2 linked regions of the Homo sapiens genome follow. The protein of the gene in region 2 purifies or fractionates together with the protein of the main gene of each other region. This does not show direct contact. Each region holds a gene or a part of one and is shown on either strand. Other genes may lie near its edges.

The links.
Region 1: the proteins of CKMT2 (region 2) and ASB9 purify together in Homo sapiens (co-immunoprecipitation; 2 studies listed by BioGRID and IntAct, with this or other methods). This does not show direct contact.

Annotation. Positions count from the first base shown.
Region 1 is NC_000023.11:15,249,827-15,262,259, forward strand, and holds part of ASB9 (ankyrin repeat and SOCS box protein 9), read right to left. Parts: intron 9,120-12,433; coding exon 9,040-9,119; intron 5,019-9,039; coding exon 4,911-5,018; intron 2,579-4,910; coding exon 2,428-2,578; intron 739-2,427; coding exon 604-738; intron 1-603. UniProt on the Homo sapiens protein: Substrate-recognition component of a cullin-5-RING E3 ubiquitin-protein ligase complex (ECS complex, also named CRL5 complex), which mediates the ubiquitination and subsequent proteasomal degradation of target proteins.
Region 2 is NC_000005.10:81,225,280-81,238,096, forward strand, and holds the start of CKMT2 (creatine kinase S-type, mitochondrial precursor), read left to right. Parts: upstream 1-8,042; 5' UTR 8,043-8,098; exon of another isoform or gene 8,099-8,102; intron 8,103-12,285; exon of another isoform or gene 12,286-12,817. Other genes in the region: RASGRF2 (ras-specific guanine nucleotide-releasing factor 2), read left to right, coding at 399-491. UniProt on the Homo sapiens protein: Reversibly catalyzes the transfer of phosphate between ATP and various phosphogens (e.g. creatine phosphate).

The sequences.
Region 1 (12,433 bases), on a different chromosome or scaffold from region 2:
TAAGGACTGCAACAACATTCATTGGGAAACAGATTACTGAAGCCTTAAAGAATAAATAGGACTCAGATAATTAAAGAGGTGATGAAATGGTGTTCCAGGTGTTGAGAAGGGGGCTGGACAACAGCAGGGAGGTGAAAAGAAATAAGGGTACATAGGCCTTTTCAAGGAAAATATAATATTTGCAATGGGGCAAGTTCAATATCTAATCAAAGAGAACTGGTTAAGGTCCCAAATAGGAAGATTCAACACTAATCCAACAGCTTTGCAAGTTATGCAGGGCTTAATAATGTGACTGGCCAAATGGAGGGAGACAGAGGAAAGGGAGGAGAAACTAATAATCATTGAGGACCACCCTGAGAAGAGGCATCATCATCATCATCATCCTCCTCCTCCTCCTCCTCCTCCTCATCCTTGTTACAAATGAGAGAACTACAGTTCAAACAGTGTGAAATAATTCCCCAAGGGAACACAGTCAATATGAACCCTGACCTTGTCCAACTCCATTGCCCACACTAATTTCTCTCCTACAGCAGTAAGATGTTTAAAATACATTTAATTTACTTTTCGTTTTCTTTTCTTGTTTTGGTTTGCTTTTTGCTTTACCTGACTCCAGAAGCTTCTTGACACAGGCTCTCTGTTGGTTTTCACAAGCCAAATAGAGTGGAGTGCCCAGGTGGCTGATCTTATGGTCAATGTTGCCCCCATAAGCTATAAGAGAGTTGACACACTCCACGTGGCCTGCAGCCCAAAGCAGGAAGAAAAACAGTTACAATACAAGTTCCCTTAGCTAGAAAGACATTGCCATCCCCATTTTGCATTAAATTTGGCAGCAGCTTATCCAGGGGACCAAAAAGCTATTTCCTTCAATTAGAATCAGGAGTGATTTTATTTTATTTCATTTTATTTTATTTTAGAAACGGAGTCTCGCTCTGTCCCCCAGGCTGGAGTGCAGTGGCGCAATCTCGGCTTACTGCAAGCTCCGCCTCCTGGGTTCACGCCATTCTCCTGCCTCAGCCTCCGAGTAGCTGGTACTACAGGCGCCCGCCACCACACCCTGCTAACTTTTTTGTATTTTTAGTAGAGATGGGGTTTCACCGTGTTAGCCAGGATGGTCTCAATCTCCTGACCTCGTGGTCCGCCCGCCTCAGCCTCCCAAAATGCTGGGATTACAGGCGTGAGACCAGGCCCGGCCAAATCAGGAGTGATTTTAACCACTGCTATCAGTTAATGGTTTGACCATAGGATGCAATCTGCAACTACGGGTGAAACTCCATTTGAGTTTACTAGCCACGGTAACCAACCAGCAACTATCCACCTTTTTCAATTGTCTGTGGCTTTGTAGTTTGTCTAAGTACAGAAATTGAAGTGAGAGCTTGGGAGAGATATGGAGGAACAGGACCTGAAGGTGGAACTGAAGAATAAAGGGCACAGTGTGGGCCACGGGACAGGGAAGGAAACTTACAACCTCTCCAAAGGCAGGCCCGGGAGGAACAGGCCACAGCGGGTATAGGCAATGCTTAGAAGAAACTGCCAAATCCAACATGAGCAGGGCCCAATCTGAAAAACTAGGTGAAAGCTGAATCACACTTCCTTGGTCCAGGATGTCATATTTTTGACATTGCTCCTCTACGTTTCTCTTGCTGTATTTTAGTTCTATGTATGCAGCGAATATGATGAGTTAAGATGTTCTCAATAAATAATATTAATGCTTTGGGAGATCATTATGAGTGGGTTGGTCCAGTCAAATGGGAAGCCATTCTATGAAAGCCACTGGAGAAACAGAAAGCCCTCTGGCAAGGTATGGTCATTACGATGATGCTAAATATTGGAGAAAATAAAAACTTGTGATTTTATGAGCTAAGACTATCAGAAAAATTATGGCTTTAATGAAAAGAATTATCCCAAACTGTATGCAACATCAAATACTTTCAAAAATTGAAAGCTTATTTCATTTGGCAAACTTAAGTGTCACTGAGACAATGTTCTTTAAGGCCCTGAAATAGAAGAATATAATTTGTTTTATGAAATAACTTGATTTCTATAAGGTCACGGGTATAACAACGGATTCCACAAATATTGATGGATAGTCTACTATGTGCCAAGCCCTGTTTCAGTAATACAGCAGTGAAAAACATTCAAAATGCTCTAAAAGGGAGGCACTCAAACTTACTGTGTACCAGAAAGCAGCTGGAGGGCTTATTAAACAAAATACAGAGGGCTGAGCCCCATCCCCAGTTACTGATTCAATGGGGCTGGAGTGAGGCCGAAGAATCTGCATTTGCAGGCCAGGTCATGCTGATGCTTCCAGTCCTGGGACTCCATTTTGAGAACTACTGCTCTAAAATATATCTCCTTTTCTTTCTTTCTTTCAGCAGTAAGATGTCCCTTGAAGGAGTGGGTAGAAAAAAAAATTCTCAACAGATTTACCTCTCCTAGCAGCTTCATGGATGGGGGATGCCAGATCACTCTCAGGTTGAACGCTGGCTCCGTGCTGCAGAAGCAAATTCACACAATCCCAGCTGCCGCTGACACAAGCATTAAACAGTGGAGTGTGCCAGTCTGCTGTCACACCATTCACCTGGTAAAAGAAGCTCCAGAATGAAGACAGGAAGGGGGATGTTTTGGGTTCAAATGTGGGGTCCACCACTCTGAAGATGTTATTTAACATCTCTGAGCCTTAAATTCCTCAGCTATAAAATGGAGAAATAACTACGAAATTCCACAGGTTTTTGTGAAAAATGGAATTAGGGAGTGGCTATAAAGCATCGAAAATGTTACTCAATGTTCTATCTCCTCCATGCCCTCCCCAGGAACATGAACTTTGAAACTAGTTAGGATAATTTCAATCGCTTACAAACTAATCCCTATTTTAAACTTCTTTCCTAGACCCATCCCACACCAATTCAATTTCTTAACGGGTGCAAGAAGATTACTCTTGCTGCTGTGAGGAAATTGTTGAAATTATTAGCTGTGTAATTTAGTATATTCTTAAAGTATAATTTAGAAAACTTTAAAAAACTTGACTTTCATACAAATATAGAATTAACACATACCCAAGATTTTATTCAACTCACTCATTAATGAGGGAACCAGTAAGATGGTAAGGCTGGCTCAAAAAAACATTTGGCCAGGCGCAGTGGCTCACGCCTATAATCCCAGCACTTTGGGAGGCCGAGGCAGGCGGATTGCCTGAGCTCAGGAGTTCGAGACCAGCCTGGGCAACATGGTGAAACCCGGTCTCTACTAAGATACAAAAAATTAGCCCAGCATGGTAGCATGCGCCTGTAGTCCCAGCTACTCGGGAGGCTGAGGCAGGAGAATTACTTGAACCCGGGAGGCAGAGGTTGCAGTGAACCGAGATCACGCCACTGCACTCCAGCCTGGGCGACAGAGTGAGACTCTGTCTCAAAAAAAGAAAGAAAAAAGAAAAACGTATATAGTCAATGGACTGCTGAAATATATTTGCTAATAGATACAAAACTCCGCCGGGCACGGTGGCTCACACCTGTAATCCCAGCACTTTGGGAGACCAAGGTGGGCGGGTCACCTGAGGTCGGAAGTTCGAGACCAACCTGGGCAACATGATAACATGATGAAACCCCATCTCTACTAAAAATACAAAAATGAGCCAAGTGTGGTGGTGCGTGCCTATAATCCCAGCTACTCAGGAGGCTGAGGCAGGAGTATCACTCGAACCCAGGAGGCGGAGGTTGCAGGGAGCTGAGTTCGTGCCACTGTACTCCAGCCTGGGCGACAGAGCGAGACTCCATCTCAAAAATTAAAAAAATAAAAACATAAAAACTGGTTAATGTCCTATAGGGCCATAAAAGTATAATCTTTGAGGCTATCTTTTCTAATGTTGGAAATCAGACAGAAATTTCGAAGTTAATGTCTAACTTCACAGTGTTTGGGCTATAATTAAATAGTGAATAGAAAAGCCAAGTGCAGACACATTCTTGTATATCATTAAATGATTATCTGGTGAATCTTTTAAGCAATGATATTGTGAAGACAACGAATTCCTTCTCAAACTCTACTTCCAAGCAGGGCCAGGACCAGAGTGAGACATAAAAGTTGCCCAGGGTAAAAAATTTAAGGACATATTCATTTTTGGAGTCACACAAATAGTGCAGGACCCTGAGAGCGAGCACTTCTTTCAAGTTTGTACCCTAGGTGTCTCTTGCTTCACCTTGACACGTTCCCTGTTTCCAAGTTTTGAATGTTTTCTTAACCCAAATATAAATCTGGCAGTGCACTCACCTCTGGCTCTTTACTGATCTCAGGACAAAGCCCATTCTTTTTTTGGCATGGACAAGGTTGCTTATGTTCTGAACCCTCTCACCTACTCTACTGTCCTGCCGTAAGGAATGACTTCAAGATATAAAAATTGCTCACTATCATTTCTGGGACTTTGCATTTGCTGTTGCCAGAAGATAGCAAGCCCATAATTTTCCCCAACCCACCATTCAGTTGCCTAACACAAAACAGGTCCATTTTTGCTGCTCTTGCAATCCCTGCTACCATGTGAACAAGTCCAGGTTGCCAGCTAAAGGATGAATGACCACATAGATTTTCTGTCTCCTCAGACATCCTAGCCATCCCAGGCAAATGTGTGCTTTCCACAATATTTCATTACCTTCCGGCCATAACAATGAAGACAGAAGTCTAATAACTATTTATTAGTAGTGTATGATAAAGAAAATGATATAGACTGTAAGCGTGACTAAAAATTTAGTATTTCATCCATCCATCACTAAAGCAAACAAGCCTGATGAACATAATTTTCTTGAAAAACAACTGTCTTCATATTTCAAATCAGTCTAATCAAAAGTGCTGGAAGTTATTCAGAAGGGATATACATAGTCATTTTTCATTCTTGGTTTCTAAGATGTTGTTTCAGCTGCCCTTACCTGAGCTCCATGCTTTAATAAAATCTTCACACAAGAGAGATGACCTCCAAGACAGGCTTCATGGAGTGGGGAAACATGATCTGCCGTGATGATGTTCACAGCCCACCCCTGAAGGAGGGGAAACAGTCAGAGTAAGGGGTGCAAAGCAACAGTGCCCTGGGGCTGCTTTTCAGCCACCATTCCAGTACTATGACAAAGCTGACCTGGCTCAAAGTCAGATGTTACACTAAGGTGTTTATATTGACTTTAAAAAAAAAAAAATGCCACACTACTGGTGGGAGTGTGGTATGGTATAACCACTCAGGAAAACAGTTTGACTGTATCTATTAGAGCTGACAATGCATATGCCTATGACTCAGCAATTTGACTCTTAGGTATATATACATCTAGATAAATATACAAGAATATTCACAACAGCATTGGTCATAATAGTCAAAAACTGCAAACAAACCAAATGTCCATCAACAATGGACTGAATTAATTAACTTTGGTATAATCTTTCAGCAGAAAGATTACACCCAACAAATCATAATGGCAAGCACTACAAGGGTGATGCTTGCAAAAATAATGTTGAGCAAAAGAAGCAAAATCCAAAAGCATACACACTGAATGATTACATCAATTTAAAGTTCAAAATTAGGCAAAACTACCCCATATTGTTTCAGAAGACATAATATATAGAGTAAAACCATAAAGAAAACAAGGAAATCGGGATAATGGTTACTCCTGTGGAAGAGGGACAGGATTGTGTTCTAGAAAGCACAATAAGGGGAGGGATGGGTGAGTCTTTGGAGGAGCCAGCATTGTGCTATTTTTCCATTTCCTGACCTGGGGAGGCAGTCACATGGCAATATTCTCATCATCATCACTTTTTATTCAACTGCACACGTGTTTAAGTTCTTTCATGCTTATGAAATTTCTCAATTTTTTTAAAGTCAGCGTGGCCCAAATTGCTAAGTTTTAACAAGCAATTATTAAGTTTTAACATATTCACAAGTGGCTCTACCTTGTGAGACAATTAAAAGGAAATTTTCAAACTGCGAGGGAAAAGAAATAGACTGCTGCATGTACCTTTTAGGAAGCCTAAATGTACTTTCTTATTTTAGGAAATTGAAATGTACCTATTAACTAATATAATTGCTCTTTAAACATAAGTATTTAGTAACACACAGGATTTAATAATATTTGTAATAAAAATATCAGTTTCACCCAATTTTTTTTCTCAAAAAAACCCTCCTTTTCCTGACATTTAATTGTTTTTCTTAGATTTCCTAGCTCTATCATAGTTTTGACAAGGGGGTCAACAAACAGTAGCCTACAGAGTCAAATCTAGCCTACACCTGCTTCTGTAGCTAGGAATGGTTTCTACATTTTTAATGGTTTAAAAGAAATCAAAGGAATATTTTGTGACACGTGAAAATTTTATGAAATTCAAATTTCAGCATCCATAAGCAAAGTTTTATCAGAACACAGCCATGCCCATTCATTTACATATTGTCTACAACTGCTTTTCTGCTAAACAGCAGAGTTAGGTACTTCCAACAGAGACTGCATGGTTCGCAAGGCCTAAGATTCTTTTTTTTTTTTTTTTTTTTTTTTGAGACGATGTCTTGCTCTGTCGCCGAGGCTGGAGTGCAGTGGCGCGATCTCGGGTCACTGCAAGCTCCACCTCCTGGGTTCACGCCACTCTCCTGCCTCAGCCTCCCAGCCTAAAATATTTACTATCTGGTCCTTTACTGAAAAAAATTTGCCAACTCTTGGCCGGGTGCAGTGGCTCACGCCTGTAATCCCAGCACTTTGGGAGGCCGAGGCAGGCGGATCACGAGGTCAGGAGATCGAGACCATCCTGGCTAACACGGTGAAACCCCATCTCTACTAAAAATACAAAAAATTAGCCGGGCGAGGTGGGGGACACCTGTAGTCCCAGCTACTCGGGAGGCTGAGGCAGGAGAATGGCGTGAACCCCAGGGGGCGGAGCCTGCAGTGAGCCGAGATGGCGCCACTGCACTCCAGCCTGGGCGACAGCAAGACTCCGTCTCAAAAAAAAAAAAAAAAAAAGAAAGAAAAAAATGTGCCAACTTTTGTCGTGATCAAAGAAAAGAATATGTCATTTCTTACTTTACTATTCATACCTAAGACTTAAATGTCCAATTGGCAGGAGAAAATATCTTATTTTCTCACAGTCATCACACTTATAGAAAGTAGCTTTGTCAATGCCACAAGAGGGGTATGATTGTCACATGAAGCAAAAATCATGCAAGTGTATCAGACACAAGTTGGGGGAAGGCAGGCCGAGGTACAGAACTTGGGCAAAAGGCAACCATAAAAACAACCAATAGGAAAATGTGCATACTCCTCCAGGCACAACTGCCATTGTAAAACCGGCATTTAGACCAGGCACGGTGGCTCATGCCTATAATCCCAGCACTTTGGGAGGCTAAGGCTGATGGATTATCTGAGGTCAGCAGTTTGAGACCAGCCTGACCAACATGGTGAAACCTCGTCTCTACTAAAAATATAAAATTAGCGGGGCGTGGTGGCACATGCCTGTAGTCCCAGCTACTCGGGAGGCTGAGGCAGAATTGCTTCAACCCAGGAGGCGGAGGTTGCAGTGAGCCGAGATCGCGCCACTGCACTCCAGATGGCAACAAGAGTGAAACTCCATCTCAAAAAAATAATAATAATAATAATAATAATGATAAAAATAAAACCAGCATTTAGGTGTTTATACATAAATCCACGTAAATGAAATACAACAACACAGCTATTCGTAACACAAAAAGTTTTCACCACATATTCACATTGCAGAGAGGTTCCTTCTGTAAAGTTAGAAACTCATTTGTAGTTCATCATCAAGCTACAGTTCTACCTTAAATTAACTGTGATTTGTCTAAATTATTAACAAGTCTGAGTCATATAAAATCATAAGGTAATTAACCCATTACTTCACAGTGTTCAGTCCACAGTCAGTTCTTAGTTTTTAAAAAAAGATTGAATGGCTTAACTTTAATATATCTATTTTCAGTCGTCAACTACGCTTAGTTGACAAAATGTACTTCTCTTGAGCCTTGACTTTGGATGTGGTCATGTGACTTGACCAGTGGGATGTTAGCAGATGTGACATGAACAGATTGGAAGTATTCTTGCATGGTGGGGCTTGTCCTGCTGTGCTCCAGCGTTTTGCCAAGAAAAAATAATTCCTCAGGTAGCCAGTGGTCCAAGCAGGATGAAAGAGATGTGCAGCAGGGCTACACCCAACCCACAGCTGGGAGCCAAGCCCAGCCAAGCCCAGCCTAGATGAACTGACACAAACACACATCAGCAAGAAATAATGGTTACTGTATCATGTCACTGAGTTTTGGGATGGTTTGTTATTGAGTTATGGGGTGGACTGACCTAGGTAGGTATTAGAATACTCATTTTATGAAAGCAGAAACCGGGGCTCTAAAAAGACATCTTACACAAATAATGTGATAGAACTTGGAGATATGGTTCTGGCTGATGTTTCATAAACACATAAATACTGAATGTAAATGAGTATCTGTCCAATTTAAGAAGTGATATATAAAAGCTGCAGTGATCATTTTTCATGCTATCAAAATAGGGTAAATTTCTAATTTTATCTGAGAAGTAGCCTAACTTCTTTTAGCTAGAATTAGTGTTATAATCTATTTATAATAGACTGCTGCTACCAAAAATGGCTTAAGATAGTGGCTTAGGATAGTATGAAATTTTTCTTTAGAAATTATTTTCTTATAGGAGGACTTCTTACTCTAGATAGGTCTATGAAATTGGATTTTTTAAAGCACATTTATTCTCACTCAGCTCTATCTGAAATTTAGCATTTCCTTCAGTTCAGAATGTAGACAACAAACCACAGTAGTAATAGTATTATGTAGGGTTATCTCCAATAGAAATTACAGATATTTTCTATTGTATTACAATTGCTGTAGACATCTAAAATATCTCAAAATCTATACTCATCCTATTTAGACGTTATGGTAGTTACTAGAATCACCACTAGGTCTTCTATTTAATGAATTAATTTAAAAGTCCCTATGTTATTATGTCACACATTTGTTTTAATATTTTGATAGGTTTCTTCTGTATTGTATTTTCAAAAAGCTACCTGGCTGATGAGGTTCCTCAGAGACAGCTGATGTCCGTGGATTGCAGCTTCATGCATAGGAGACCAATCAGACACAGCATCTGTATGGAAAGAGGGGAATGGGTTATATCCTGCTAATGCACTTAGACCCAGAGGCTTATCCTTGCCCATCAATAAGAGCCTAACAGGCCCTGGATGGAGGGAGACATTGGATTCACTCAACCAAAATTCCCATCAGGAATTCAGCATTTCTCTTCTTTATTAATATTTTTTGTGCACAGTTTGTTTGAAATGTCTGGATAGCTTGGGAAAGAACTACAGCCAGTCCTCAAACTAAGGACAAAAGAGGTGGATTGGGATGACAGATTACTCTATTTCTATTTACACACTGGTTTCAAAGGCAAATGGCCCATTTAGTTAAGCGAGAGCTTCACTAATTACCAACATTAGTGTGTTAAGCTGTAGCTGTCAGTCTAGTTTCCTGCATGAAATACAGACTTTGGCATCTCACCAAACAGTGTTCTGTATTAATAGTAGTAATCATGTAATTACATACACCATTAGGTTTGGAATCAAATCTAAACAGAACCATATCTATTTATAGATTATCTCCTGTCCTAATATTAAGCACAAATCAGTGTTCAGTCTCACCTTGAAACAGGGACATTATTTACCCTCAAAGGCAGCATGCCAAGGTGGTTAAAGAAAGCTCTTAATTCAGACCCGCTTCACCTTTTCTGACCTGTGGGTCCCGGGAAAGGCCCAGTGCCGCAGTTTCCTTCTCTGTAAAGTTACAAGTTGAGCAGCCCTAATATATAACATACAGGTTGAGCATCCTTAACCCAAAACTCCCAAATCCAAAATGCTCCAAAATCCAAAGCTTCTTGAGTGCTAACATGATGCCACAAGTGGAAAATTCCACATCTGACATGTGATGGGTTGCAGTCAAAACGTTGTTTCATGCACAAACTTATTTAAAATATTATATAAAATTATCTCAGGTTATGTGTGTAAGGTGTATATAAAACATAAATGCATTTCGTGTTTAGACTTGAGTACCATCCACAAGATAAGTCATTATGTATATGCAAATATTCCAACATCTGAAAAAACTGGAAACACTTCTGGTCCCAAGGATTTCAGAGACGGGATGCTCAACCTGTACTTACCATGGCTCAACACATACTAGCTACTATTATTATCCTGCCCTAACACTAAACAGAGAGTCTTAATTATACCTCATCATCATTGCTATTTAAAATAGCAAATTTACACCAGGCGTGGTGGCTCACACCTGCAATCCCAGCACTTTGAGAGGCCGAGGTGGGCAGATCACCTGAGGTCAGGAGTTCGAGACCAGCCTTGCAACATGGTGAAACACCATCTCTAGTAAAAATGTAAAAATTAGCTGGGTGTGGTGGCTCACGCCTATAATCCCAGCTAGTCGGGAGGCTGAGGCGGGAGAATCGGTTGAACCCGGGAGGCGGAGGTTGCAGTGAGCCGAGATCATGCCACTGCACTCCAGCCTGGGTGACACAGTGAGACTCTGTCTCAAAAAAATAAAATAAAATAGCAAATTTATTCTACAACCACATAGAAGGAAAACAAATTCTTAGGAAAGAAGCCTGAAAACCCAATCCCAACCCATTAAATGCTTTCCTCTCTCTTAATTGAATATAACTGAATGAGGCATAGATCTGATTTTTTTCTCATCTCAAGCTTCATCTGATTTCCAGTAGAAATGTGAGGGAGGCGTGCCTGAACCTGCTTCAGCTCCAGCTCCACCTGCTTCGCCAAACACACTACATACAAACAAGGTAGAAAGGTCTGGTGCCAGTTATGCCTTGCACGGAAGCTAATAGCTCCTAAAAACTGAGAAGACCTGGAGAAGGAGGATACTTAACTATCTATACCTTGCAAACTGAAAGGCTATGAAGTATCCTTTGTATTTAACACATGTTGGCTTAACACTTTGTACTTAACACATGAGGCCCGTCTGTCTGCCACCTGAAGCCATCAGTGCCCTGGAAAATCTGTATTAGTAAGCAAATTACCATTCTTCCAGATGGATTCATTAAGCATTTAGTACATAAAAGGAAGACAAATGAGCCCATCTACATACCGCCCATCCAATGCTTTCCTTCTGGGGTCACTAAAGGTGCTTGAGACAAGGTACATCTTAAGTGAAATGGCTTTTCGTACCGTCAAAACCTCACGCTTAATAGATACTCAATGTCCTCACGGCATTCTCTGAGGCTCCTAATTATTTCTGGAATAATACTGCTGATTCTAGGGCTTGGAAGCTAAAATTCGGACTGCAGACATGGAAAGATTGATCTCCAAATTAGAATTAAAAGGACAACTAATTCCACCCTGTTGGTGCTGATAATGCCAAATACCATTCACACAAAATCTTGAATGAGAACAAAGAGCCACAAATTGAGAAAGGTTTTGAAAATCAGTTTTCAATAGATTTGCAAATGTATCTTGATGGATCACCATATGTATGATGATTAATCCACTTTTTTTTCCAAGTGCTCAGCTGCTAAGAAATACAGCTGCCACATTCCCCAACCTCTCTTAGAGCTCCCTAAGATTATTATTGTCGACAGGCTAAACAGTCCAGGCAGGTAGATTGCATCCTAATTTGTAACTGTCCAGATTTCATAAAAATGACGCATTTATCAAGTGTAGCCACAAATGGTCTTACTTTCTGCTCATTCATCATGGGACCATTACTCTTTCTATTTGGGGCAAATAAAGAAGTACGTACTTCTCCAAGAGAATAACAAGGCTATCTGAATTTGCACCTCTGCAGAATGTAGTGTTTACAGAGCAGAGACAGCTTGTGTCTTTGAGAAGTACAGAGTGTTGTCCTGGTACACGTAGTGAGGGGCTGACAATGTGAATATCTCTAGCTAGCTAGCTAGCAAGCAGCTGTATTGAGATATAATTCACATACCATACAATACACCCATTTAATGTGTACAATTCAGCAGTTTTCAGTATATTCAGAGCTATGCAACCAACACCACAATCAATTTTAGAACATTTTCATCACCCCAAAAAGAAACTCTGTGCCCATTAGCAGTCACTCCACAGTTCTACTTCCCTCAGCCCCTGGCAGCCATGGATCTACTTTCTGTCTCTATGGATTTGCCTATTCTGGACATTTCATATAAATGAAACCATACAGTATGTGGTACTTTGCAACTGGCTTCTTTTATTTAGCATGTTTCAAAGTTTCATCCATGTTGTAGCGTGCATCAGTACTTCATTCCTTTTTTTTTTTTTTTTGGCCAAATAATTCCATTGTATGGATAAGCCACATTTTATGTATTCATTCATCAGCTGATAAAAATTTGTGTCATTTCTACTTCTTGCCTATTATGAATAATGCTGCTATAAACATTCA
Region 2 (12,817 bases):
GCTCTATCTACTGTCACAGGGAGCTCTCTCCAACCTATCATTAAGAGATGAAAGCAGAATAAAATGTGCACCATGGTGCCAATTTTAGGGGGAAAAATGATTTCTGTAAGTACATGTAATCTCTATAAAGACATAGAAAAACAACTGGGAGAAAACAAACCAATTAGTAACAGTAGTTCCTCTTGAGGGAGGTACCTGGGATTGGGGGTTGAGAGAGGACTAGAGATGTTCACCTTTTTTTTTTTTTTTTTAACAATGGAAACATATTTATGATTTTTTGGTCAAATAAGATTTTTAGTTGTTTAAGAGAAAATGTTGAATTGTGTTAGATTCCGTCAGAAAATGTACGCACTGGTGTCTGAAAGAGGTAAAAGCTGGGACTTCCCCTTTTTTTTCAGGTCGCACAGTACTTGCTTGACAAAGACCTTATCATAGATGAAGATACGCTATATGAGCTGTCACTAAAAATTGAACCTCGACTCCCTGCTTGAAGATCTGGCCTTGCCCCTGAGTCCACGGGATGTTCATGGAAAGCAGGACAGACAGAATTGTGTATGCCTTGCCTATCACGGTACAGCACGAAGCCAGGCTCCTTTCTCCACCAAAGAAGATGGAACCAGACTGGAATTCTGTCTCCAGAGAGAAACCCAGCTGTTTGGGTCAAAGACAGATGCTTCAGACTTGGGTGGGAAGGTGAAAGATGGCTATTTAGAAAGCTGGTGGCACGTTTTACATAAGGGAATGTCAGATGGGAGATGCTAGTTGCCATTTTAACAAAGCAGGTAAATCGGTAAATTTTAAACTCTGTCCATGTTCTGTTAGAACTCAGGGACAAGGATCCATGAAAAAGACCTGTGATGTTTCTCTGGCGCTTTACTGGCCTGGGCACACCTACCAATCTTCTAGGATTTGACTGGTTCCATTACATTTCCTTTTGGTATAAGCTTCACAGAAAAGCTGACACTTCCTCTACAGAGATGGACCAAAACATAAGCAATTTCAGTCTACAGCATGTGCATGGTTGTCAGTGCATTCTAAATATTTCTATGTGAGGAATGGTACCTTCTGAAACTGCCTTTCCAGTCTTTAGGCAATGGGATAGGAAAGAAAGAATGAAACACAAATGGATTTGTATGTAACATTTCCTTAATTAAATGCAGTAGGCTGTGCCCCAGAGGATTCCAGACAGTGGCTGGCTGAGGTGGGTGGGGAGCTTTTCCTTGAGACTGTTGGTCCTAAGAAGCCAGCCCTTTTGGAGAGGCAGCTGCAAAAAGGTGCACGCCCATCTCACCGACAAAACTGTGGAACAGAAGGCCACCAAGTGCTGTGGGGAATCATGGGTTTCAGTGCTGAGTGAAAATCTATACCTAAAAATCATCTCTGCACCTTGCTTTGTTTGTTTTCTTTCCCCACTCATAGTACTGCAGGAATCTATTCTCATTTACACAGACCTTTTTTTAGGCTTACTATGAACATTGGCTGTATTTTTTTTAAACAGTTTAGTGAAATTTTCTTTTCAAAACCCACACTTCCATATGCTGTTCGTAGATCTCTTTCTTTAAAAACTGATGTTGAGAGATCTCTGAGAATATTATAAGTGCATGGGAAATGGGCCCAACCACCGAACAGCTCTTACATTACAAAACCAAATGCAAGGGTTAGTCCTGCTACCTGAGGCTGGGGAAGTGACCTTCCTTTTCCCAAGATTGTCAGTTGTTGAAGAAATAGGGCTATCTCATTGTTTACCTCCCTCTTCTCTTCTCAGGGAGACTGCTGCTTTAAAAGAAGGAAGAGAAAAAATATAGTTCTATTTCCCTGAACCTGTTGCACCTGACATTTTCTCTTAGCAGCATGAAACTTATTGATGCTGACAATGAAAAATGGATCTGTCTGGCTGCTTTCCCTCTTTCCTTGCACTTTAATTATGTTGCTAGAGCTAACAGACTAATAAATTCCACCTGCTGGCTCTTAAGACTCAGTGAAAGAGCTAGCATTGGTAATGCACCATAGAGGTAGAGAATGTACACTTTCTGCACGGTAAGTGCCATCTCTGTATGTAACTATATAGTGAAATATCAACTAAGTAAAAGAAAATATAATATTTGAAGACCATTCCCAAAATATTTTCAATAGTTCATATTAGCCAACAGTGTAGCACTCAACCCAAGGAGGGTTCCTTATGGATGCTTTCTTTTTCTTTTTTAAAGTTGCTTGTTTGTTCTCTTTAGTTTCAAATAAGAGGTTGACGCATCTTGATGCATGATGAGAAGCATGGGCTGTTTGGATCCTAACAACGCATAACTTGTGATTTATTTCTCAGTGCTCCAGAAACTGAGGGTTTGAAATAATATGTATCAGTTGCACCAAACACCTCAAGGTCTTGCAGAAGAAAAGTAAAGGTTAGCTTTCATGGCTCAAAAGCATAGTCCTGAAGGGTGAACTAAAACCGGGACAAATCTGTGAGAGGACCACACACATACTAGTTTCGGGCCAAACAACACGTGGAAAGGTGCATGCATTCTACTCTGCCTTGGAGTTGCCAGAGTCCTTCAGAGGGAAAGGGATGGTTCTGTGTGCACTTTTTCTGGAAGTTCGGACTCATTTCTTTGACCCAAATGTTCCAGAGACACTGCAGCCATTCTTATTAACAAAAAATAAGACAGGAGTTTCCAAATGCTCCTTCCCTTTTGGATCGCAGCTTTTCTTCAACTAGTGACAAAGCTTTTGCGCCTATTTCCTGCAGGATGTTGGAACTGCCCCGCACTGGTCATATTAGGCACTGTCAATTGCTATGCTGACTTTTAGGGGGTTTTTGTTTGTTTGAAAAACAGGGTCTCACCATGTTGCCCAGGCTGGTCTCGAACTCCTGGACTCAAGCAATCTTCCTGCCTCAGCCTCTCAAGCAGCTGGGACTGCAGGGGTGTGCCACTCACTAGCCTTTCGCATTTTTGTTTGAGAATTACACCACTTTCTGGAGTCTGCAGCCTTCCTGGAGCTGCAAGAGGGCAAGAGAGAGAGCTCCACCTCTGAGGGAGTGTCTGTTGATGACCTGCACTATTCGTGTGCCAGCTGGGAGAGGAATGCACATTTTAAAATCCCTTCAATTTGGTCAAATTAAAAATCCCCAAGAGCAATTTGCAGTGTTTTTTCTGGTCGTTAAAGTACCCATCCTCTTCTGCCTACACACAAAGCATGCATTCCCAGCTGCATCTGCCTCTAGTCCATTATGGAGACCCATTTCTAAGAGGAGATGGGAGGTCAACCTCTAACAGCCAAGTAGCGAACATGTATACTGTAAAATTAACCTAGAAAATCAGAAGAAAAATCCAATTTCATGCTTTCGAATGAATGCCCACATTTTGTACTGTCAACGAAATTATCTTGGAGCTTTTAGGGGATGCCTTTTCGTTATTAACTGAGACATCTAGTTTTGCTACAGGGACAAATCTCTTACCTAATCCAATATATTATTTGACAGATTCAGGCATGAAGTAAAACGTCGTCACTTTTCCTTAGTGCTTTTCTGAAGGAATTTAAAGACGGAATTTTAAACGGCCATTGCAATATTTTCAAGTGGCTCTCATACCAAGTCCCATTACTGTTTGTTAAATTTCAGTACGTCTTAAAGTACTACTTATAAACAAATGAAACTCAGAGAAACTGAATCACCTGGAAGAGAAAAATCCATTATGGTCCCATGTGGAGTGAATAATGATGGATCAGCACCCTTTCTCTCATGTTATTGTATAAGACGAGACTTTTGGGCCAGCAGCGATTGGGCAGCTTTTAAATTCTTAACTGAAAAGAGTAATGCAATACAGGGATTATTCCCAATAAAATTAACTTTTATTTAAAAGCAAGAGATTTTACTTAGCTTTTTTTTTTCAAAGTTTGATTTTATCCCCTTGAAAAAAAATCTCTTCACTTTAAAGTATAAAGGTTTTTAAAAATCCAATTGCAAAATGTATTATTTTTACAACTATCGAAAAGGCATAAAAGAGAACATACTATTTATGGCTGAAGGGTATAGCCAGGCTAATGTGCACAGAGGGAATCAATAAATAAAACTCTTTTTCATTTCAGTAAGAAATCAGATTGTAAGTTTAATGGCTCCATTATAGATACCACCGTGTAATAGAAGACTTAAGTCAATGAAATCTAATCAGTGTGTCATTTCTCAGCGGCCATTGGTGACTTAAAATTAAGATGAGGCAGAGCCAAAATGGAAAACAGTCATTTTGTTGTAGGTATAAACACATGAACGATTCAGAAAATTATTCATCTCAGCTGCCATGCAGCATGACATTAACATTAGGATTGATAGCACTAGTCTGATCTGCTCAAGGAAAATAATAGTTCTATTATACTTAATGATGTTGGTTTTTACACAGCTCATTTCATTTTTCACTAGAAAGCCAGTTATGAAAGAGAGCTGGCCTAGGCATCCCGGCCCTGAGTCCTAGGCCCAGTCTCCAACTGGAAAACCTTAGGCTGGTGTTTACACATCCCTGAGCCTCAGTTTCCTCATCTGCAAAACGGTGTGAATAGTAATCCCTGTGCTGCTTATCTCACAGGGCTATTGTGAGGACCAAATGGATTAGACTGTAAACTGCAAAGTGCTGTCCGCACATGAGGTCATCTGATTACTGTCCTCAGATCTCTTTTGTAGAGGATTTCAATGTATTTCTTTATCATTTGAGTGTGTGTGTGATGGACGAATATGTGTGTGAGTTTGAGAAGCATATCGTTCGTGTCCAGTTACTTTGCAAATTTGTGGACATTTGTGATTGGACAGAGGGGTTTGTGCTGTGGCCTAACACTTGCCAAGTGAGGTGTAGGTTATGCCTATATGCAAATTAAACTTCACCTTTCTTGAATATTCAGAAATCTCACTGGTTTCTTCATTTAACTCTTTTTCCCCCCATTTTTCTACATTGTCAACTTAAAACCATGAAATGTATACATTTAGAAAAAATAGAACTTAATTTCTTATAAAGGGTTACAATCTGCAGGCTGGAGCCTCTGGCCAAAGCCAAAAGCAAGCACTTCAGATAAAAAAGGGAGAGGCTGAGATTTATGCCCAACAAGATGAGCCTTACATATACATTTAGTAGGTTATAGGATAATCTTATGAATATTTATGAGAGGCCCTAATGCATGCATAGCCAGTAATCATATATGTTACATGTTACATACAACCCATGTTCACTTTGGGATGGAGACTTAAAATGTAGTAAAATTGGGCTCTATATGTCAAAAGATGGAACACAGGGCACAAAGACGCTTGGTGTGCAATCTCTGTAAACCGGCCAGAACCGGCTGTGGTCTGTGGTCAGTTATGAGGATGGAGTGCTTTGTAAGGCTGAACACTTGTCAGGGGGAAACTGCGTTGAGGGAAGGGGGGGTTCGCCACGTCAGGTTGTCTGTTGAAGTTGAGGAAGAAATCTTCCAGACATAGTTTTTCAGTAACTGGTTTTAGTTTAATTTTAGGAAAGAAAGTCTTGAGGCAGTTATCGAGGTGGGAGAGCGTTGGGTGTGACTGACCTCTTGCCTTGCCAAAGCTGTAGAATCTGGTTTTTAATGTTTCCTGGGGTCTCTTTTTACCACAATGAGTCTGTTTTGTTTTGCTTGGGGGCCTAGGGGCTTTATTTTTATTTTACATCTTCTTCATAGCAGTGAACTCCTTCAGATATATTATTTACTTCTAAATATTACTTCTAAAGTTCAGGGAGAAAAACAGTTTAGAAGAGGCCCTAAAATTCAAAGAATTTGGGGAAAGCTTTGAAATGATACGAAGGATCAACTAATCACACTTTCTTTGCAGTGCTTAGATTCTTCCTGTGACATCCCCAGCCTATATTTGATACCTCCAGGCACAGAGAACTCACTACTACCTGGAACAGCTCAGTCCATTGCACAGCAGCTCAACGCTCCTGAATGGGTGGTGGAGAGAGGAGAAGCCGCCAGGGTAGAGTCCTGGCCTAATAGTCACCAGGCTCCACCTAGGAGGGGCTTCTGAAATAAGACTCCTGTCTACCCCTAAAATAACTGCAGTGGTTATATGGATTACTATATATGAAAATACTTTAACTTCTATGAAGTTGTGGCAACATTTAGAGCTGATGGAATTAAGTTACAGTTGCTGGACACAAGAATAGACTAAGGAAAGGGGTCCCTCCTGCCCAATTCTGAAATGAGCAATCCAGGCTGGTGCGACAGAGGAACCCAGGTTCCTTTCATCCTATTACTTGCTCATCCCACAAGGCGTCATCCTTGCCTTCGAGGTCAAATCTGGGGCCTGCTCTAGCCACACTCCTGCTGGACTCAGGAACAGAAAAGAGAATAAGTCCAGGACATTTTCCTTTAAAGCAAATGATATGGCAGTCGCACACTTCAATTCTGTTCCTGCCCTTATGGCAGAAGCCAGCCACAGGGCAGCCTGGTGTGGCTAGAGCCCCAGAGCTTCAAAAGGAGTTGGTAACGATGAGAAGGGAATAGATGCCATGTGACAGGGATGGCATTTGAAAGATTTCCAGAAAGCCAGAATTTCTACTGTGAGTCCCTTGTAGAGATTTCATCCCCATCACACCACCTTTATAATAAGCTTGAAGAGGACCAGTCCCCCAAAAGAAGGGTGGTACCCTCTTTTCTCAACAATGACCCAATTTTTCTTCTGACCTTACTAACATAAACATTTACTCTATAAAATATAAGGTGTTGAGGTCGGGTGAGTGGAGGGGGCCCTAAATGTTGATTAGGCAATTGGGGAGGAAAAGGAGGTTTTTGCTATAACTGCCATTCTTTAAATCTACAATTCCATGCTCTTTAAAAGCCTTATAATTTTCTGGATCTGGGAGCTGGGCTATTTCAGGGTCAATGGATTTATTTCAGTTGGTGCCTGAACTGACTTGAAACAAGTGTGTGTGGAAAAGAGCTATTTTGAGAAGGAATAAACCGAGACTGCCCTGATGATAGAATATGCAAGCTGGTGGGTCTTGACTCCTTAAAGGATTATGAAATTAATTTGATTGGTCCCAATCTTTATATAACCACCCCAATCAGGAAACTTCCCATCCCGCCAAAAGGCCCCCTCACGTGCTCTCCCTGTCAGTACCCCATGCAAAGGTAAAATAGATGATATTTTTAAACATGGGTCGTGTTTAAAAGAAATGGAAACTCCTTCAGAGAATGAAGGAGAACCACACTGGGTAGAAGGTTATTCCTGGGGCTCCACCCCTTGCTCCATCAAGTCCTCTGAGCATGAGCTGGGCTCTGAGAAGGAAGAGACAGGAACCAATTGGTCATGTCCACGTGGCCTCAGAAGCTGAGTACGTGACGGTCACCAGATGCCTAGGCAGGCTCCCTTGAAATGGCAGGGCTGCTGTCCAAAATCCTGCTGGGTCATTGCTATTTACAGGCAGCCTTCCCGGCGTGCGGTGGATATCCCAAGCGGGGCTATTTTTAAGCAGGGCTATGGCCTGCCGTGGGTTAAGCTGGTGTGGACAGAAAGCGAGATGATCTAGCCATCTACTGCAGGGGGCCTGATCTTGAACAGAAACCTGACTGTAATTGTCCCTGGATCCAGGTCCCAGACAAAGACGCTGGAAGGAGGTCCCTCCAGCCCCTGGCTCAGGGCCCGGTCAGCTGCTGGAGCCAGGCAGCTTGAGACATCCTCCTCTCCGACCTTGGCTTGAGGGGTTCATCCTCCAGAGCTCACCAGGGCCCCAAGGCTGGTACACCTGAGAGAAGAGAGAAACAAATCCCCCAACAGATGTGCAATTTCACCTGCTGGCCCTTCCATTCTGAGATCCAGAGCCCTGGCAAAGGAGCCTCCAGGACCAGGCCTGGGAAGCAAGACTGGCTCCGCCTTTTACGTTTCAGAGAAAGGGCAGGTGCTATAAAGGGCCCAGCGCCCACGGGCCTGCCTTCAAGGGTACAGCTGTGGGGGCCGGTGCGCCCGGAGGTCTACGCTGGGATTGGTGAGGTCCTCTGGCCCCGCCCCGCCAGGGAGGATTTCCAGGCCGGCCCGACCAGCTCGCCCTGCATACACTTCTTGGCTGTGTGCGCTCAGCAGGACGTGGGAGGCTCCGGCTTCAAGGTCGGTGAGTCCGTGAAACTCTGCTTTATTCCTCCAAAGAGGGGTCATGGCTAGAGCCAGTGTGAAGGGCCTTGGAGGAGTGGATGCCGGGCTGTAGACGGGGACCCCGTTAGGACGCTGACTGCGAGGAGGCAATGGTGACTCGCTAAAGCCAGCAGAGCTCCCGCCCTTGGCCGAAGCGACCCCTCCTCCCTGCACACAGGTGGGGGCAGCTCAGCACCAGGAGCAGAACAAATCAGCACGCTGCCTGCAGGGCCTCTTTTTGGTAGTGAATCAGGAATTTTTCTCGATGGAAAAAAAAATCTAAAGGCTGTATTTTGACGCTAAGTTTGGGACAACTTTAAACTTAAAGTGTCTTTCCCTTGTAATTCACAGAGTCTAATCCACTCATTTCTGGGAATGTTTTTCCCCAGCAGTCTCAGTCTCAAAAGACATGTAAATCAGTGACTTGGGATGAACTAACTAGAAAATTAAAATTTTGAGAAGCTATTTGCTCATAAGCCCAATAGCCAGGCCCAGTTTAAACGGGCAAATAGTATTGCTAGAGATTCAGTTTTGCCGTCACTAATACTAACACATTGATAATGAGACAAGTAACCGTCTCCCCTCCCCACCATCCTTACCTTTCCCACCGGAGGTTAATTAAAAAAAAAAAAAAAAAAAAAAAAACCTATGGAATTGGCCCCACGTGTTTCACCTGGGCAGAGGCCTGTTCTTCACTAGCTTGCTTGCTTGGTTGGTTGTCCCGGGGTTAAAATCAGTCCTGTTCTTGCCCCTAGAGTGGTCTGCCTTCAAATGCTCTCCTCCGAATGTGAGGAAGAGTGACATTTGACAAACAGACCAAAACCTTTAGGTCTCCTCAGTGCTGCCCTTTAGACCTTCCAGAAAGTGTTGCCAGGCTCGTGACCCCTCACAGTGTCAGCTGAGTCAAGTGAGGGGCAGTTAGTGGCCCTCAGGACAAGGTTACGCTAGGTACACCAGTGTGCTGTTTCCAGAAGGGCTGCTTTTCCTGTCTACGGCTCTCACATTTTCTCTGTTCTGAACTCGTGTCCTTGGTCTGTTCTCTCTGTCCTCTCATAGAGGCGAGCATGGCCACAGCATGTGGCCAGAGACTTCCTGACAGGCAGGCTCTTCCGGGAGGCTCTTGGCCTTGTTTGGCGGTCTGAGCACTTCACTTCCTCTGCATTGATAGGCACCTTTTCCAAAGACCCCAGACTTTGGAGTTAATCACGCCTGTGGGTTAAGGCACTGTCACAGCAAAGCACAGGAGTGCCACATGCACCCCATGGACTCTGCCAGCCTCATGACCAAATCATATCATTAGGAAATGGGCCATAGGCAGGTCAGTTTTCCTAAGGAAACTGTGGGTTGGGTCGGGGGGAGTACCATACAGAATGGGGAGTCCTGGGGTTTCAGACACAGGAGGGAGACTGACTTTGCCCCTAGCTCAGAGGCCCTGGGCCTCCATCTCTGCCATAGCCTACAGCAGGCTCCATTTGTCTTCCCAAAGGAAGCCACGTAGAGTCTGTGTCAAGCATTCTGGGAGCTCCTGCCCACAGAGCCAGGAATCCAGCAGCAACCCATGCTGAAGGTGACTGCTGGAGGTCACACTAACCCTTGCCAGGAAGCCTCAGAGACTCCCTCCCTTGGGCGGGGAAGAAGGCAGCCCACTTCACAGCACTTCAAAGGACTAGATGGCTCCTAGCTTCCTGTTTTCTTGAAAACAATTTACCCTTGAGGGACAAAGTCTGGTAACGGTCCCATGCCTTCATCACAGGAGGCCTAGGAAAGGCCTCTGTTTTACAGAGTAGGATTCTAAATATCTCCTTCCTGCCTAGGACTGTCTATTTGCTGAGTAGAACAGTAATGCCAAGAGTGCCCATTAAGGTTGGCTGCGTACTAAGTGGTTTTGAGGTAACGCACACCCTTTGCTATCTTAGAACTGGGAGGAGACAGGCATTTTCTGCGGCCTAGGAGCCTGGCATCGTGAGAATTTGTTCAGAGTGTTCTGTGGAGCTGGTCCAAGCCCAAGGACATCCTCTGTTTTGGGGTGGCTCTCTGGATGGAAAGCTGACACGTGGTCCTCCTCCTGCCCTTCCACCTGCCCTCTGGCTGAGGAGTTCAGACACATGGACGCTGTGAATGGCTGGACCAGAAATAAATCTGAGTCAGCAGAAAGGCAGACATGGTCCATCCGGGATGCCCAGGAAGAGCAGGGGGCTCGGGCTGGAGGCAGTGACAGAACCCAAGGCCTCCTCTTCACATTCTAGGATGTCACAGAACCAGAGAAGAGCATTAAGACCAGGATCTGAACTCCCAGTATACCTGCCTGGGACCAAGAAATGTACAGCTTGTGGCCACTTAACAAAAGGGCTTGATGTAGCTGTCGTTGTTTTTTTAATGCGGAGGGCAGTGTAGGAACAAACAGGATATTATTGCTTTTGGCTCTGTCTGGCTGTGCTCTTGCACCTCCCCATCGCTCCAAATCTCCCTGGCTTGGAGCCCAGGTATTCTGCCAATTTTAGCCTAGATGCTGTAAGCAGTGTTTTTCAATTCAGGAGTCATTGTGGTGTTCCAGGTTAGGGAAACTGAGGCAGAAAGCTTCTATGGGGTGAGAGCTGGAGACCACCTTCCTCTTCACACTGGCACAGCATCCCTAGCAAGGCCTGGCAGGCACATTGAGCACTAGAGTCAGAGTGGAGCGGGCAGAGATATCCCTGGCGTCTGGGTTACTTCAGCGGGAGCCTGAGGACAGGGAAAGAGAACAAGTTTATAATCTGCAACTTTAGAAGTCATATGCCCTGAGGTGACAATCCTGTGCCTAGGAGCTGCTGTGTTAAATGCACTTCTACGGTCTTGGGGGTTTGACTGAGTGGAATGATCTGTGGCACCACAGGTTTTAAGCCACAGGGGTGGTTTCCCTCCAATTGCTGGTCAGTGAAGGGCTGTATGTGAGGTGCTGCGGTCTGCAAGGAAGCTGAATCCAGTGCAAAAGACAAACCTGGGTTCAAATCCCAGCTCTACTAGTGTGCTGGCACTGAAACCTGGGGCAGGTCACTTCTCTTGAGCCTCTGTTTCCCCATGCCCAAAATAAAGCATACTTGGCAGGATTGTTACATAGACTGATTGTGTTTGTAAGGTCCCTTACATAATGCATGGCTCATGATAGGAGCTCATAAATGCTCAAAAAGAAGACAGAAGGTTTGACTCAGTCGGTGTATAGGGTTGGAAAGGATATTCCAGGGGAAAGAAAACACTCAAGCAAAGGCTCAGAGGTGGCAAAGTGAAGGACCTGTTCAGTGATGCCAGGAAGTCATTGGAGACACTGTTGGAGGGGTGGAGTCTGGAAGAAGAACTGGGGAGCCCAATTGGTTAAATCCATTTTGTGAACCCCGATGTTGGTTTTCAGAGGATGATCAGTAGATCTGAAAGTATGTGATAGACACCTTTGAAGTCTTGTCCGCAGAGATAGAAAATACAAATTAAAAGAAGGCAGCTGTGGTGGTTCACACCTCTAATCCCAGCACTTTGGGAGGCTGAGGCAGGTGGATCACTTGAGGTCAGGAGTTCGAGACCAGCCCGGCCAACATGGCAAAATCCCATCTCTACTAAAAGTACAAAATTAGCCACATGTGGTGGTGGGCGCCTGTAATCCCAGCTACTTGGGAGGCTGAGGCAGGAGAATTGCTTGAACCCAGGAGGTGGAGACTGCAGTGAGCTGAGATCGCACCACTGCACTCCAGCCTGGGTGACAGAGCGAGACTCTTTCTCAAATTAAATGAAACATTTAAATGCGAAAAATGTAAGTTAAAATCAAAAAGCATTCAGAAAAGGGGCAGGCCGAGTGCTGGCTGGAATAATCAGGTGTGGCTTTGGGGAGGGAGTGATGATGATCCCATAGCCTTAGGGTCATCAGGGGAAGGGACTCATTTATTCAGTGCCTACTGCAGCCTGTCCCGTCGTCTTCACAACACCTCACAGGGAGACCTCATCATGCCCATGATGGGGAGGAGCTGCTGAGGCTCGGGTGGGTACCAAGCAGGGTTCCTACACCTAGCGGGGCTTGGTAACATCCTGTAATCGGGGAGCTTTTTCTCATTATACATGTGAGGGCCCCACTCTTGGAGAGACTCATTCAAAAAAGGTGGAGCCTAGAAATCCAAAATTTTAACACACATCAAAATTTTCTTTTTTAGGTTTTTACTTTTTTATCATAAAGATAACACATGCTTATTTTTACAAGTGATACAATACAGAGTTCCATTAAGAGAAAATTAATCTGCCTTCTCCGAGTCCGTTACTCTGAAGCAACCCTTTTAGCAGTTTGATGAATATCCTTCAATACTTTTATGTTCATACAAATACATGAAAATGTATATGTATATATACATCATTGTTACAAATTGCAACCGCTCATATTCAGTCCTAAGCAAGTTTTTCTTTTCCTTTTAACCTAAAAAGGTGTCACAGATGGGCCTCCAGGTAAGTGGAGGCAGTTTTAACTCCTTTAATAGCTGCAGAATATTTCACCATCTGAATGCACCAGCATTTGTTGAGTGGCAGTGCTGGGCTTCTCAAACTATCTGTGGCAAAATCTCTTATTAATTTCTAATCCATAGCAGACTCACACATTTGTAAAATATGATAAAGTGCAACTATTAGAAAAAGAGAATAAGGCTGGGCGTGGTGGCTCACACCTGTAATCCCAGCATTTTGGGA